Linked DNA regions of Homo sapiens: region 2 is linked to region 1. The links come from fine-mapping of genetic effects on gene expression. Tissue or cell type: testis. Region 1 holds a variant in brackets; the other region holds the start of a gene. All regions are shown on one strand. Distances are from middle to middle.

What was found. PIP is the estimated chance that this variant, and not a neighbour inherited with it, causes the effect.
Region 2: LINC02806 starts here. The variant in region 1 is fine-mapped to the expression of LINC02806 in testis (GTEx, PIP 0.91).

Annotation. Positions count from the first base shown.
Region 1 is chr1:148,230,337-148,238,440 of GRCh38, forward strand. All of the region lies in intron 1 of LOC101927468 (a long non-coding RNA gene), which reads right to left. Among named protein-coding and RNA genes, the nearest start is that of TRQ-CTG4-1, 31 kb to the right of the region's middle. RefSeq lists an enhancer at 7,615-8,104. The variant CGAA/C (reference allele first, on the strand shown) is at 4,077.
Region 2 is chr1:148,275,037-148,283,140 of GRCh38, forward strand. LINC02806 (long intergenic non-protein coding RNA 2806) reads left to right here and starts at 4,232. Exons shown (of 2, transcript NR_187239.1): 1 at 4,232-4,495. It overlaps LINC01731 (long intergenic non-protein coding RNA 1731), which reads right to left and starts at 6,187. Exons shown (of 5, transcript NR_183739.1): 1 at 6,002-6,187; 2 at 202-338. It overlaps TRH-GTG1-3 (tRNA-His (anticodon GTG) 1-3), which reads left to right and starts at 6,329; the gene lies at 6,329-6,400.

The DNA.
Region 1 (8,104 bases):
AAGAAACCATAGCTTCTACAACTTGATTCCAATGCCCATGGCCACACATATCATCATTCTTTAACAAAGATTGAATGACCAAAACTGTGCTAAAGACTGAAATACAAAAATAGATATATATTATTTCCTATAGTGGTAGACTAGTTATCTCAGAGTAACCCCTCTGCTGAGAAAAAGTAAAATGAAATTGGGAAATATATTTTTTGAAAACCCACACCTTCCAAAAGCACCAAATAGTTAATCGAATAAGAAACTGCCCAGTCAAAAGCTAGAAAAAATGAAGCCCCTATATTAAAATCTGTTTGGCCCTAATGAGATTTGCTTATCTCGAAGAAATAACTGTGAAACTGCATTTGCTTAGGGCAGGTGGGGGTCTTTCAGGGCAGAGGAAACAAGACTTAAAGCTCAGGGTCCACCTTAGCTTAAGACTCAGATAAACCACCTGCCACTGTAAGGTAGAACCTAGCAAGGTTATCACTTCAGGGTAAGGGTAAACCAGAATTAAACCAGTCCTTCAAAAGACTTGCAGCCTAGCTTCTCATCATTTGGCTCTTTTAGGGAACCTGAAGCCTCGAACTTAGATTAAGATAGTCCTGCATTAGTAGCATCTCTAGAATCATGGCAGAAACAAATTAAAATACTCTCTTGTAAGAGGCACTATCATCTTATGTCTCAAAGTATTCCTAAAATACATTGAATAGCACACAAAGAAAACAAAATGCATAGGAAACAAGGTACCATGAGCAAGAACCAGTTAAAACAAGAAGATAGTAGAAACAGACCAACAAAGACTGTTTGTCATATATTGGGATTATTAGATACCAACTATAAAACAACTATGCCTACCAAGCCTTAAAAAAGAAAAAAAAAAAGGAAAAGAAAGAAAGAAAAGAAAAGCTTCAAAATTTCAGAAAGACACTGAGGGGGAAAAGTGACATAATTTTGAAAAGGGGAAATATAATGACAAATTATGAATTAATTGAGTGAGTTTAAGGGCATATTAGACATAGCTGAAGAAAGAATTATTGAACAGAAAAATAAGTCAGAATAAACTTTCCATATTACAGCACAAAGAGACAAAAACAGAAAATATAGCAGAGAGGATAAGAGAGAGGGAGGACATCTTGAAAAAGTCTAACATATATTTAATTGCAGTTTTACAAGAGAGAGAAATGGAGCAAAGGCAATATTTAAATTTTTATGGTTAAATGACTGAGAATTTTGGAGGACTGACTCATAGAACTTAAGAATTCCATGCAGGATAAAGAAAAAAGAAATCTACACCAAGATTCACCCTGAGATATTGCAGAAAACAAAAGAAAAAGTGAAAAAATCTTTATAGCGTCCAGAAAAAAAAATTTTAATTTAAGTTTCTAAAGCACAAAAATAAAAACCAAAGGAAAAATGGGAATATATTCTCCATGTTCTTATAGAAAATAAAAACTATTATAGAACTTTATAGCCAGCAAAATATTCTTCAACCATGAAAGTAAAATACAGGCATTTTCAGACAAACAAGAATTGAGAGAATTCACAACCAACTGACTTAGGCTAAAGGGTCAGAGACACAGAAAGGATTAAGAATTTTAAAAATGGTAAATATATGGGTAAACATAAATATTGACCTTAAAAGCTGTAATATGCATGTCTTACAGAGTGTTAAAATATACAGAATTAAAATGTATAGCAACTCCATGTTGCCAGCTAGAAACTAGGGAGAAAGGGAAGTTTTGTTAAATTATTCTAAGGTCCTGACCTCTTGACTTCAGGTAATCCACCCACCTCACCCCCATCTCTACTAAAAATACAAAAATTAGCTGGGTGTGGTGGTGCACACCTGTAATCCCAGCTACTCGGGAAGCTGAGGCAGGAGAATCGCTTGAACCTAGTAGGTGGAGGTTGCCATGAGCCGAGATAGCACCATTGCACTCCAGCCTGGGGGATAAGAGCAAATCTCCATCACAAAAAAAAAAAAAAAAAAAAAAAAATTATTCTAAGGTCCTTATACTCATTCCAGAAGGACAGTAAATGTACTGATTAACATTAGACTTTAGGCCAGGCATGGTAGCTCACACCTGTAAACCCAGCACTTTGGGAGGCCAGGGTTCAGGAGGATTGCTTGAGCCTAGAAGTCTGAGACCAGCCTGGGCAATATAGCGAGACCTCGTTGCTACAAAAAATAAACAAACAAAACTAGCCAGGTGTGGTGGTATGTGCCTGTAGTCGCAGCTACTGGGGAGGCTGAGGTAGGAGGATCGTTTAAGCTGGGGAAGTTGAGGATGTAGTGAGCTGTGACTGCATCACTGCACCCCAGTCTGGGCCACAAAGTGAGACCCTGTCTTTAAATTAAAAAGAAAAAAAAGACTTTGCTAAGGAAAGGGTGACTATTGTGTGATTTCTAGAGCCAGAGAGCCACTGCTCAAAGAATAGAAAAAGAGTACATTATTTTCATATCAACAGAAAAGGAAAAAAATAGATGGTAAGAAAAAATAATCATTTCAAAAGAAAGGCAAGAAAGGTGAGAAAAAGAAACATAGATCTGGTGGACCAAACAAAAGCACAAAATAAGATGGTTGTTTCTTGGCCAGGTGTGGTGGCTCACGCCTGTAATCCCAGCACTCTGGGAGGCCCAGGTGAGCAGATCACTTGAGGCCAGGAGTTCAAGACCATCATGGCCAACACAGGGAAACCCTGTCTCTACTAAAAATACAAAAAATTAGCTGCAGCTGGGCACAGTGGGAGGCCAAGGCAGGCAGATCACTTGAGGTCAGGTGTTCAAGACCAACCTGGCCAACATGGTGAAACCCCATCTCTACTGGGTCGTGTTCATTCTTACTCTCTGTCCCACTCAATATCTCCTCCTGGAGCCCCTGGGGCTGCCAGGTGCTTATCTGTCAGGCGATGCCCCCAGCTGAGGAATAAGGGACCCATGTCCTCAGGAGGAAGGAGGGTCACTTGAGGTAACGAGCACTTTCTGGGTCCGTGGAGAGGACACATGGAAGACGCTCAGTGAGTGTCGGGGGATGCGTAGTCCCTGACACGTGCCCTGATAACTTCGAGTATTTAAACTGATTTCTTCCCACTGATGTCTCTTTTGCTTCTCCATGGATTCCCACATCCCCAGTCAGGACTCACCCACCTGGCTCCAACGCTCTCACCTGCTGGCTTTCCCAGGAGTCCAGAGCACTAACCAGGCTCCAGGCAGGAGGAAAGAATGAATGCCTTTTGTTTCATTCTCTAGTGACTTCTCCCTGCTGTCTACTAGGGCATTTGTTTCTCACCATGTCTTCTCTCTCTCAATAGTCTTATTTTTCCAAAATTTTTTCCAATTTCAATGGGCTAGATTGTAATGTTAGTGATTATAATGTTAATTCAACACCTTCCACATCCCTATGTAATAATTTCTTCCAATAGATTTTTATATATAAATATATGCATTTATGTCACTGTTATATACGTTATGCATATTTGCATGTATTTTTAATAAAATGTAGATATATGCAATGTACCTATCTGTATGATCATTTCATCAATATCCCATGTTTAGTCTTCCCAATTCTTTTCTCTCATATGTTCATTTAACGTTGATTTTGCTTGATTTTTAGAATCTCCTCCCTCCCAAAACACAGCCTGTATCCAGTGTGATTTCCTTGCCTTTGCCTTATCTACTTGGAAGCTATTTGGGTTTATTAATCCTAAATTTTTTGAATATGTTTGCCAGTTGGGATCACCTTTTCCTCCTGGCAATCTTGTCATTACTGGGTGATGCATGAAAAATCAACAATACAGAAAGTACCCAAATGTCTTTCTTGGCTTCCCTTTACCCCTTGGATTTTCTTGTTCAAGGCCGCTTTCCTTCTCTGATGATCCTCTTGGGTGGAAGAGAAAGTCACAGTAAGATCATGGATGACAGTGAATGCTGTTGGGTGTGGTTTCATTTTCAGAGCTGGGTTTAGAGACTTCCCTTGGAATGAAGAACCCTCACCAGCTGGAAGGTGATGCTATTGAAGGCTCAGCTGACAACACACATGGGCATCAAGTCACTGGCCACATTCATGCCTCAAGTGTCCTAAAAC[CGAA/C]GATGACCAAAAGAAAGCTCCCATTCAGCAAGTGGAGACTGGCCTGCAGATTCCCTGGCCTGCAAGCTTAGAGTACGAAGGTAATCACATCTATGGCTCTTAGCTGCACTCACTCCTTATTTCTCTCTGTCTGTGATGACAGCTCCTTCTCCCACTGCTTTTTTCTTCTGTATTTGTTCTCTCCAGCAGCTGCTGTCATGTCTGTCTGGTCTAACCTCTGTGTCCCATGGGCTGCCACCCTGCCAGGCCCTTCTGGTCCTCATCACCTGTTTGCTCTCTGAACTCTGCTCTGTTCCCACTGCTGCTGTCCTGAGAGTCCTTCTCACAGCTGCAGGAGAGCCCAGCCTCCTTGTCTCCCTCCAAGTGCATGGTGTGAGCTGCTAAACACAGAGTTCTTTGCCTGGAATTGCACGGCTTGAGTAATTTGCCTTTCCTTCCTGCATCCCAAACTCCATTGCCCCTTTCTGCTGGGAGCATTGCTTTAATACGTCATTTATACACAGATTTTTCTCTTGGGACAGCTTTTGAGCAACCCAACTAAGTCAAACTTTAACCCTCACCTTGTACATGGGAATGAGAAGTGTTAAAAATGAGCACTAAGAACCCCAAATCAAAAACTAAATTAGAACCTGGGTCACAGAAGAGAGTTCCCTACTAGCCTGGAGTCAGGTGTGTCTTCAGCTCCAGATGGGCAACCTTATGCCAACGTGGATGAAGTTTCCAGGGACTGTGCCTGCTCCTCATGGAGTCACTTAGCTGACATTAACTGGAGAACATTTATGACATTCCAAAGGAACCTCAGCCGAAGGTAGATGCAGAGGGCAGGGCAGGACTTTGAACCTGCATAGACCACGAGGTACATTCTCACCTCTCTCCTTTTTATTCACATATCTACTTCTACAAGCTCAGTTAGAATCTAAAACACAACTCAGGTGAATCTTGAGGACAGAGAAATACGAGAGCATTTAATGAATTAACTTTGAGAAAAGTGAGTCCAGGGGTCAGCTTTATGTCTACATAAGATGATAGACAAGAACCTATCTACAGGACAGACTTTGCCTCAGACCAGCCCAAGTGAGAGATTTAACCGAAATTGTCAGAAGAAAGACTAAAATCCATAGAGCCACAGAGAATGAAGGCAATCATGAGAGAAATGAGGATAGGAAAGAAAATGATGGGAAATCAGGTTGGTTCATTCATTGTCTCTAAATCCTGCTACCATGTAATAAGCACCTGGTGAGATTTCAATAAACATGAATGCCTTGAACTGACATCTTGAGATTCTCACTTAAATGGTCTGGGGTGTGATGTGAGCATCAGTACCTTTAAAAAACTTCCATGATATTCTAATATACAACCGAAGATGACAAGGACCACTGGTCTACTCTGACCTCAGGTTTTCAACATGGAGATGACCACTTGTGTGGCTACTCCACACAAAAGGCTGAGCATCCATCAGACATTGATGGGATCTGTATTCACCTCTCAACAGTAGTATTTGTAGAATGTAGAAAAAAATAAAAAAGAAAAACAAGAAAATAGGTGGATTAGACCTATAGTCTCTCTACTTAAAGCACACTTGCTTAATTTTAAATACAAGTAAAATAAGAAATAGTCATTATATTGAAACCCAGTATACAGAAAACAATACCTCGTATATTACACATATTCAAATTTAGCATTTTCTGTTCAATTTTATTTTATTGTATTTTATGTTTTGTTTTATTTTATTTTATTTTTAAGACAGAGTCTCTCTCTGTCACCCAGGCTGGAGTGCAGTGGCGCAGTCTCGGCTCACTGCAACCTCCGTCTCGCTGCTTCAACAATTCTCATGCCTCAGCCTCCTGAGTAGCTGGGATTACAGGTGCATGCCACCACACTTGGCTAATTTTTGTATTTTTTTAGTAGAGGCATGGTTTCACCATGTTGGGAAGGCTGATTTCAAACTCCTGGCCTCAAGTGATCCATCCACCTTGGCTTCCCAAAGATCTGGGATTTAGGCATGAGCCGTCATGCCCAGCTTTCTTTTCAATTTTAAAATAAATCCTGCAGTTTACATTTCCACACACTGATTCCAGAGCCCATGAATGGGTTCAGCACTGCAGTGTAAAAATTCTGCTTTGCTCAATTCTTTTCATTCAGCCAAATCCTCAAAGAGAACTCGTAGTTCTCACTCAACTAGAGAGAATATAATAATAAGTAAAAACTGAAACTCGGCCGGGCATGGTGGCTCATGCCTCTTAATTCCAACACTTTGGGAGGCCAAGGAGGGTGGATCATCTGAGGTCAGGAGTTCGAGACCAGTCTGACCAACATGGCGAAACCCTGTCTCCACTAAAAATACAAAAATTAGCCGGGCGTGATGGCACGTGCCTGTAATCCCAGCTACTTGGGAAGCTGAGGCAGGAGAATCGCTTGAGCCTGGAAGACAGAGGTTACAGTGAGCTGAGATCGCACCACTACACTCCAGCCTGGGTGACAGAGCAAGACTCTATCTAAAAAAAAAAAGAAATAATAATAATAATAATAATAAAACTGAAACTCAGGAAGAGATGATATATGAATACTTTTTTATGCTACCCTTGACGCTGGCATAAAATACTAAAAAGAAATCTTTCCCAACAAACCACTTTGGGAAAAATATAACAGGGAGAGGAGAATGTAATAAAACACAAACTAATCCTTTTCACTTTCTACTTCAGAGTTTTGTCGATCAGATATTGAGAATATTTCTAGAAATGCCTTAAGGTGTAACCAGGTATGGAATCAACTTCAGGGAATTAGGGATAATAAGTTGGGCCATGGTTACAATCACCACCCTTCCTTTGTAATTCCATTTGACTCTTTCCTTTTCCTTTTTTTCTGATCCTTTTTGGAAGAACACATAATATTTCTTTTGTCTTTTCTCATTTTTAATTTTACCGACAAAACAAGTAGCAGTGACATCATATTTCTTTGTAAAAGCTCATTCCTATCCTAGCCAAGGTGACCCAGCAACCTCTAGTGACTGTCAAGAACTCCAGATTGGAGAATTGACTCTCTCTTCTCTCCAACTTATTGAAAGGGACTTCGTGCGTGGGTTCTAGTTTCAGGGTTGTCAATAGCAAGTCACGTGGCTTTAGTTAAGTCAGCCCTGTGGCATCACTGCTCCTCTGTTGTAAAAGGCAGAACTGGATGTGGATGTGGTCTGAGGTCCTTCCTGTATCTCACCTCCAGGGTTCTTCCCATGGCCCTGCACACCCTTCCCTAAGAGACGGGGACATGGAGCTGTAAGGGAGTGGGTTTCTCTGTAAAAGGTCCTTTCCTTCTGCAGCCCTCTGTTTCTGAGCTTTCATGGTTGATGCTGAGAACATCCTCACTGAGGGGTGTGAAAAGCCATCACTCTGCTCCAGACAGAAGGAATCAGGAGGAAAGGGGCTGATGTCACTGGCTGCTGGTTGGGCAGAGCTAGGGTCCCTATATCCTTCACCTCAGCTGACTGGAAGTTCAGGGGCATTTACTTTTCACTTGTGGATGGCACTTGCCTCTTCACTCAGCCTTCGGCTCAGCCTTCAGCTCATCCTCCTAGCAGGAGCTCAGTTTGCCCCTGGGCTATCACCACTTAGCAGTCCCTCTAGACTCAGCCATCAGCAGGACCTGACAAAGATGCCCATTTGATCTTTCCTTCTCTGTCTCCTACAGATACTAAATGCTGCTGGAACAATGAAAAGAAAGAAAGGATATCACAAAAAGCATTTTCGTTTGATGAAAAAAACTAAAAGAGCAAAGCAATTGAAAGCTCAACACAACACAGGAGGGATCCATGGCTGAGGATTGTATTTCAGAACCACTGACTGCTCTTGACAATTGTTAACCCACAATTTTGGTTAGAGAAGCCACAGTCCTTCAGCCTCCACTTGATATCAACACTTAGGAAGACCAAAGCCAGATGGACAAACAGCATTGAGAGGCTTTAGCCCTGCTCCTCTCACTTCCATCCTGTAGACAACAGGGAATTTGCCGGTGCAGAATATGAACAATGCCAT
Region 2 (8,104 bases), 45 kb after region 1:
AGACCAACCAGACCCACTGGCTGCTTCATAGACTGTCTCTATAAAGTCCCTGCTTAGATAAATTCCGCTCCAGGGCCGGGTACACCCTGTAAGAGGCTGGTGGATTATGTGAGGTCAGGAGTTCAAGATCAGCCTAGCCAACATGGTGAAACCCCGTCTCTACTGAAAATAGGAAAATTAGCAGGAAATGGTGGCACAAACCTGTAATTAGAGCTACTTGGGAGGCTGAGGCAGGAGAATCGCTTGAGCCCAGAAGGTGGAAGTTGCAGTGAGCCAGGATTGCACATATTGCACTCCAGCCTGGGTGACAGACCGAGACTCTGTCTCAAACAAACAAACTAACAAAAATAAATAAATAAAAGAAAGATAAATTCAGCTAGGGAAAGAACCCGAGGACTATACAGTAGCTTCCATTTTTTTTTCTTTATTAGTGTGGCTGTGACCTCTTTGAGGGTCACAATTACAGTAAGTAAATGTAAAAACCACAGGGCACAAAGACAGGACCCTGCATTTGCCAGAAATGGAATCCAGGTCTCCCGGGTGGGAGGTGTAATTTCTACCACTGAACTGCCAGTGCCTCCTGACCCTGAGCTCTGCAGCCTTGGAAACAGTTAAGACACAGACTTGGGGAAAGGAGTCAAGATTTTCGCTGTGTTCTCTTTGATGTGACTAACAAAAAAGACACCCAGAGCAAAGGCTCGCAGTGGTGATTTGCATCAGGCAACACCACAAAGTTATGGCTTCACATTAAAAGAGCTGACTTGAAAAAGCCTTATTCTGAGTAGGCTCTGTGCAACTTGATAACAAACCTCTGTAGGAAAAATCAGAAATTCACCCAGTTTCTTGTCTCTGGTCCTGTATCCAGTGTGAGCCTGTGGAAAGTTCTTGCCTCGCTTGTTGATGTCTTCTCTTTGCCTCCCCATTGCTTGGTGCCTCTCAAACCCTTTCCTCCCAACCTTGACAGGAACATCAGTACTTTCTCCAAAAAAGGCTGTCAGAGAACAGGGACCCTGGTTTGGAAAGCTGAACTCTTGGGACTATGCCTGGGATACTCCAGGAGACCAGGGTGATAATTGAACTTCTCTCCTCCTACACCTCTTTTGAATTCCTGGAAAAGGCCTGGGATTGGATCTTGCTTTTAACTTCTTATGCCTTACAGAGACCTAAGCAAGAGCGAAGAAATGGACATTTCACTCCCAGATTTCTTCCCTTCACCTCACCCTGGTTGGCCACCCAAGGAGGCCAGTTCAGGGAAAAACAGTTCCATTTGATTCTAGGTAGATGCTAGGATATTACTCCTCTAGCTAACAGAAAGTGTTCTTTTGTTGTTTGCTTTTGTTGGATATTCATGTTTTCACTCTCATTCTTTTGTTTATAATGAGCATGGTACAGATTTGCACTGCTCTTTTTGTTGTTGTTGTTTGTTTTCTTTCCTTTTTACATTTTTTATTTCCAACTTTTCTTTTAAGTTCAGGGTACATGTGCAGGATGTGCAGGTTTGTCTTATAGGTAAACGTGTGCCATGGTGGTTTGCTGCACCGATCTTCCCATCACCCAGGTACTAAGCCCAGCATCCATTAGCTACTCTTCCTGATGCTCTCCCTCCTCCCAACCCCCACCCTCCAATAGGCTCCAGTGTGTGTTGTCCTTGCTCCCCAACCCCATGTATCCATGCATTCTCATATTCAGCTCCCATTTATAAGTGAAAACACACGGTGTTTGGTTTCCTGTTTCTGCGTTAGCTTGCTAAAGATAATGTGTACTGCTTTTGACCTGGCACCGTCGTTCACACCTGTAATCTCAGCAATTTGGGAGGCTGAGGCGTGTGGATCATGAGGTCAAGAGTTCGAGATCAGCCTGGCCAATATGGTGAAACCCCCATCTCTACTAAAAATACAAAAATTAGCTGAGCACAGTGGCGCGTGACTGTAGTCCCAGGTACTCGAGAGGCTGAGGCAGAAGAATCACTTGAACCAAGGAGGTGGAGGTTGCAGTGAGCTGAAATCATGCCACTGCACTCCAGCCTGGTAACAGAGCTAGACTGCGTCTCAAAAAAAAAAAATGTATATATATGTATATCTCCCTCCTATACAATATATACGTATATATATATATATATATATATATATAATATAATGTGCACTGCTTTGAATATTTAACCCTTTTCTGCCCATTAAACCATTAGAGCTGGCATTTCCTTTTCTATCCAATCTGAGAGACTTAAATCCATTATAATTCACAGCAGTTAGTGTTACATTGGAGATGACAGGCACAGTTAGTCTCATTCCCACCACCTCATTGTATGATTTCTGTGTTTTGGCTTTGTTTATAAAATCTCTTCCTGCCTTTCTTAACTAGACTGGTCTGTCTGGGTAAATTTTCTGTTTTTCTGTAGTGTTTTTGAAATTCCATGTCCCTGATTAGTTAATATATTTTCTTAGATCTCAGGTGCACAGGGAGAAGGTAATCATGTACCTTAGCTCAGGGCACATTATGGTGGCAGCTCTGAGCAAGGCACTTACTGTCTTTCCTTCTTTTCTCTGTTTATCCCACTCCCATTTCCCTGTCCACTTCCAGAAACACGTTCTGAGGAGTTTAGTATATGCTCTTTTATCTCACACTTTCTCTGCATATTTCAATAAGGGGATGTCTTTGGAAGACATACATTGTTCTTTGAGGATGGAGGATATTAAAACAACTTTAAAGTTTGAATTGGTTTCCAAAAACCCATTCCATCCTCTTTACTCCATTCTGTGTACTATCTTCTCAACTTTTCTATTCAAATAGAAAAGTTTGTGTATAAATTTGGGGAGGAAGAAAAGAGTCAAGCCAATGTAAAATGGGCAAAATACTTGAACGGTGTTTGTTTACCAAAGAGAATTTCTTAATGGCCAAATTGCATAAGAAAGGATTCTTGGCATTATTACTCATTCAGGAAACACAAATTTAAAATGCCATGATACTCCATAACACACCCATCAGAATGGGTAACATTTAAGAGACAGGGAAAGCCACTGGCTTATAAAAATGCAGAGCAACTGTAACTCTTGTTGCTGGCAAGAGAATACAATACTGTAAACAAACAGATGCCTGTAATCCCAGCAGTTTGGGAGGCCGAGGTGGGCTGATCCCTTGAGCTCAGGAGTTTCAGACTAGACTGGGCAAGATGAGGAAAACTCATCTCTACCAAAAAAATTCAAAGAATTAGCCAGGACTATAGGTGTGCCTGTAGTCCCAGCTACTCAGGAGGTTGCAGTGGGAGGATTGCTTGAGCCTGGGAGGCAGAGGTTGCAGTGAGCTAAGATTACACCACTGAAGTCCAGCTTGGGCTACAGGGTGAGACCCTGTCTCAAGGAAGGAAGGAAGGGAGGGAGGGATGGTGGGTCCAGGTGCGGTGATTTACCACTGTAATCCCAGCACTTTGGGAGTCTGAGTCCAGTGGATCACAAAGTCAGGAGATGAAGATGATCCTGGCTAACACAGTGAAACCCCCATCTCTACTCAAAATACAAAAAATGAGCTGGGCGGCATGGCACATGCCTGTAGTCCCAACTGCTTGGGAGGCTGAAGCAGGAGAATCACTGGAACCTGGGAGGCGGAGGTTGCAGTGAGCCGATATCATACCAAAACCACAATATCAGAGATGATAAATTCGCTGGATGGGATTAACAGCAGATTAGATGTTGCAGAAGAAATGATCAGGGAACATGGAATCATGAATAATTGAAAATATGCAAAATGAAACTCACAGACAAAAGAGATTTTTTTTAATGAAAAGATTATCAGTGAACTGTAGGGCAGACTTAAGAGGTCTAATTTTTGAGTAATGGGAGTCCCTGAGAAGGAGCAGGGAGGAAAGGAAACATTTATTTTCTTTCTTTGTTATTTTTCTTAGGAATGGGGTCTCAGTATGTTGCCCAGGCTGGTCTTGAATTTCAGGCCTCACTCAACACCTCCCGACTTGGCCTCCCAAAGGTGTGAGCCACTGTGCCCAGCCAATTTCTGAAGAAAAATAGCTGGAAAGTTCCCAATCATAACAAAAATTATAAATCCAGTGACCCAAGGAGCTGAGGAAACCAAAGCGCAAGAAACATGAATAAAACCACTCCTAGATACATCATAATAACATTGCTCAAATCTGGCCAGAAGAAAAAGACATTGTACATACACAGGAGCAAAAATGAGGATTGCATCAGCTTCCTTTCTGCTCTTGCCGGCCTCTACCAGGAGCAGCAATGCACACGAGCAGACAGAGAAGCAACATCTTTAAGGTACTGAGGGCAGGAGAAGTTAATGTAGAATACTATGCCAGAAAAAATAAATTCCCAAAAGTGGAAGTGAAATAAGGACATTTAGAGATGTACAAAAGCTGACCGAATTCACTACCAGTCAACCCACACTACAAGAAACATCAAATGAGTCCTCCAAGCAGAAGGAATCCAATACCAGATGAAAATCCAGATCTCCACGAGGAAATGAAGAACACCAGAAATGGGTAACTATACTAGGTATTTTTTTATTTTGTAAATTTCTTTTGTAAAAATTTGACCATTTAAACAAAAGCAATAACAATGGGTTGTGGTGTTTATAACATGCGTAAAAGCAAAGTGCATGTCAGCTATAGCGTCAAGGCCAGAAGGTGAGATATAATATCACTTGAAAGTTGACTGTGATAAGTTAAAAAGGTTTGCTATAAGCCCTAAGGGAATTACTAAAATAACAAAAGAAAGAGTTATAGCTAATAAGCCAACAGAAGAGAGAGAATAGAATGATATAAAAACTTTATGAACAGTATGATAGAGTAATTGTTCTTCCTATAGTAATTGCACCTCTAGCCTAAAGAAATATTTAGACCAGTGGCTGAAAATGCCCGTACAAGAATGACTAGAGCATTATATGTAATTATAAAAAAATCACAGAACCAATTTAACCTCAAAAGCATATGGAAAGGGCTAAATGAATGACAGTTAAAGAGAGAGAGAGAGAGAGAGAGGGAGAGGGAGAGAGAGAGAGAGAGAGAGAGAGAGAGAGAGAGAGAGAGAGAGAGAGAGAGAGAGAGAGAGAGAGAGAGAGCGGCGCGGTGGCTCACTCCTGTAATCCAGCACTTTGGGAGGCTGAGGCGGGCGGGTCACAAGGTCAGGAGATTGAGACCACCCTGGCCAACATGGTGAAACCCCGTCTCTACTAAAAATACAAAAATTAGCTGGGTGTGGTGGCGCGTGCCTATAATCCCAGCTACTCAGGGGGCTGAGGCAGGAGAATTGCTTGAACCAGAGAGTCGGAGGTTGCAGTGAGGCGAGATATCTTGCCACTGCACTCCAGCCTGGCCACAGAGCGAGACTCCATCTCAAAAAAAAAAAAAAAAAAAAGAGAGAGAGAGGGTTCCCAGAATCCTAGCGGACCTTGATTTACGTCCTCACGTCCTGCGCGACAGACGGAGGAGAGGAGGGTAAAGTTAGTCTCCCTCTGCCTTTCCATGATACCATGTGCTGGATAGAAGAAAGTTGCCAGCGGTTTAAGCATTTTTAAAATGCAAGAAATGCTCCATAGAACAGGCTCGAACCACCCACCTTCGGGCTTGGAAACAAGCACACCACCCAACTGAGACACACAGACAGACGACTCTCACTCTGGTATCACCATGCAGAGCAAGAGCCCATCCAACGTTAGGAGGAGCCACCGCCTTTTTTAGAACAACTGTGCAGGCTCTAAAGCCTCGGAAAACCTGAGAGGCGCATCTTGCTGGCTACGGTTGAAACCCGTGCATTGGGTGATTCCGAAGCTGGAAGGGCAGCGGAATGGCCTTCGCCCCGTCCTGACCCTCGCAGGCGTCAGACCCAGCATCCCAGGAAACGCCCGGGTCCGCGACTCCCTGGGCCTGAGCCGCGTGGGTCCCAGGGGAAGCAAGCAGAACGCCCCGTGGGCTCTAGTGATGGCTCTTCCCCTTCTTGGCTCCGCCTTCACCCGATTCTCTACTGCTGCTTGCGCTCCCCTCGCTCACCTCGGCCTCGGTCGGTGGGGCGGGAGAGAGGAGGGGTGAAAAGCAGAAATACGGAGAGGCCCCACAGAAGCAGAGGAGGTGCGGACCAGGACAGAGAGACCTCCCGAGAGAGGCTGGTGCAGGGAGGCCCAGGCTGGAGTGGAGGAGATGAGAATTGTTCTCATCACGTATGAAGATTGGGAGGAAGGGAGGGAAAAGCAGAGCGGGCATGAAAGAAAAGCGCGAGTCCCCTGTGGCTGTCTGGGAACGAATCCGCCTAATAATCGAAATCCATTGACGTCAAAAGGGCTAGAGCAAGCTCCGCCATCGCGGTTTAGCCTGTGGCTCGCCGTGATCGTATAGTGGTTAGTACTCTGCGTTGTGGCCGCAGCAACCTCGGTTCGAATCCGAGTCACGGCAATGTCGTTAGTCTAGGCTGTCAGCTCTTCCCTTTTGCTCCCGCAACCAGGCGCGTCAGGGGAAGGAAAAGAGACCTCACACCTTACTAACTTGGCGAGGAATCCAAGGGAAACCCTGGACGTGCTCCCTCCTGTTTCTGAGCCTCACGCAGCAAATAACCCAGTCGGCCCTGTTGGTGGCTTACACGAAGGCAATGGTGTGCTCAGAACCGTTCTTCCGGTCACTGGGGGCACGTCGGGGTAAGGAAAAGAGACCTCACAGCTCACTAACCTGGGGAGGAGTCCAAGGGAAACTCTGGACGTGCACCGTCCTGTCTCTGAGCCTCACAGAGCAAATAACCCAGTCAGCCCTGTTGGTGGTGGCTTACACGAAGGCAATGGTGTGCTCAGAACCTGTTTTCCAGTCACTGGGGCTGTTACACACGAAACGACAAGAAGCTTTTAATGACTTTAAACTCCAAACTCTTTGTTGTGGCCTACAATGGCTTGTCTCTGTGCCCGTCACCAAGTTTGTATGCCAACAGCAAAGTGTGAGGAAAGGCAATCTGGTGCCGGGGGTCTTTCCACCTCCACTCTGCCACGTAGGAATGGGCCTTGGGCCTGGAGCACTTCCTTCCTGAGAGATAAGGAGTCATCACAGCCTGTGCTGGACTCACCTCCTTGTGTGGGAGTATCTTTCCCCCGATCAGACTTGGTGTGTACCCCTTTGTTCCACTTAAGCATGTGCATCAACTGGCACCTGGCCAGCTGCTGTATCTGCCCCCCACTGAGGGGAGGAAGCGGGGGTCCTTTCTTCTGCTTCTCAAGAGGCTGTGTGTGCAGGCCAAATGGAGGGACCTGCTGGCCATGGGGGACCAACGCCCAAGACTGAAGCGGAGCCCACACCCCGCTCTGTCTCCTCTCTGTATGAATAATGTGTTGTTCTCCCGTCCAGTCTCTGACTGCCTTGTATTTCCTTGGCGACTCTGATACCAAGAGGCTAGGGCCAGAAGTGTTCAGACTCCTGCTGATAGGAAACCGATGCCACTTGCTGGACAAGATGAACGAAAATTCTTCTTGTATAGGTCTTTTTGTGGACACGTGCATTCATTTCCCTTGAGGAATACCAAGTACTGGAATTGTTGGATCATAGGGTAGGTGTAATATTAACTTTATTAGAAACGGCCAAATGGTTTCTTCCAGAATGCTTTCTCACCAGCAAGGAGAGTTCCACTGGCTGGACATCCTTGACAGCGCGTGGTGTTTACTGTTTTTTAAATACACCTGTTCTGGTGGATGTAAAACGGTACCACATCGTGGCTTCAATTTGTGTTTCCTTTAATGAGTAATGCTGTTGAGCATATTTTCTAATGCCTTTTCACCGTTTAGCAATCCTTCTTTGAGAAGACAGGCTTTGAAGCATTTTCCCTAATTCAATTGGCTTTGCTTTTTATTACTGATTTGTAAAAAGTACTCTCTATATTCAAAATTTGAGCCTTTTTTTTTCAGGTAAACACAGTGCAATTATCTTCTCCCAGTCTGTGGCTCACCTTCTCACTTTCTCATGGTGATTCTTGATGAGCAGAAGTTGATAACTTTGGTGAAATTCTACTTTGCTTTATTTTTTCCTGTTATCTCTTAAGGCAGAAATGTATTCTGCTACATTCTCTTCCAATAACTTTAGGGTTTCGTTTTAATTTCTAAATCTATGGCATATCAAATTCAT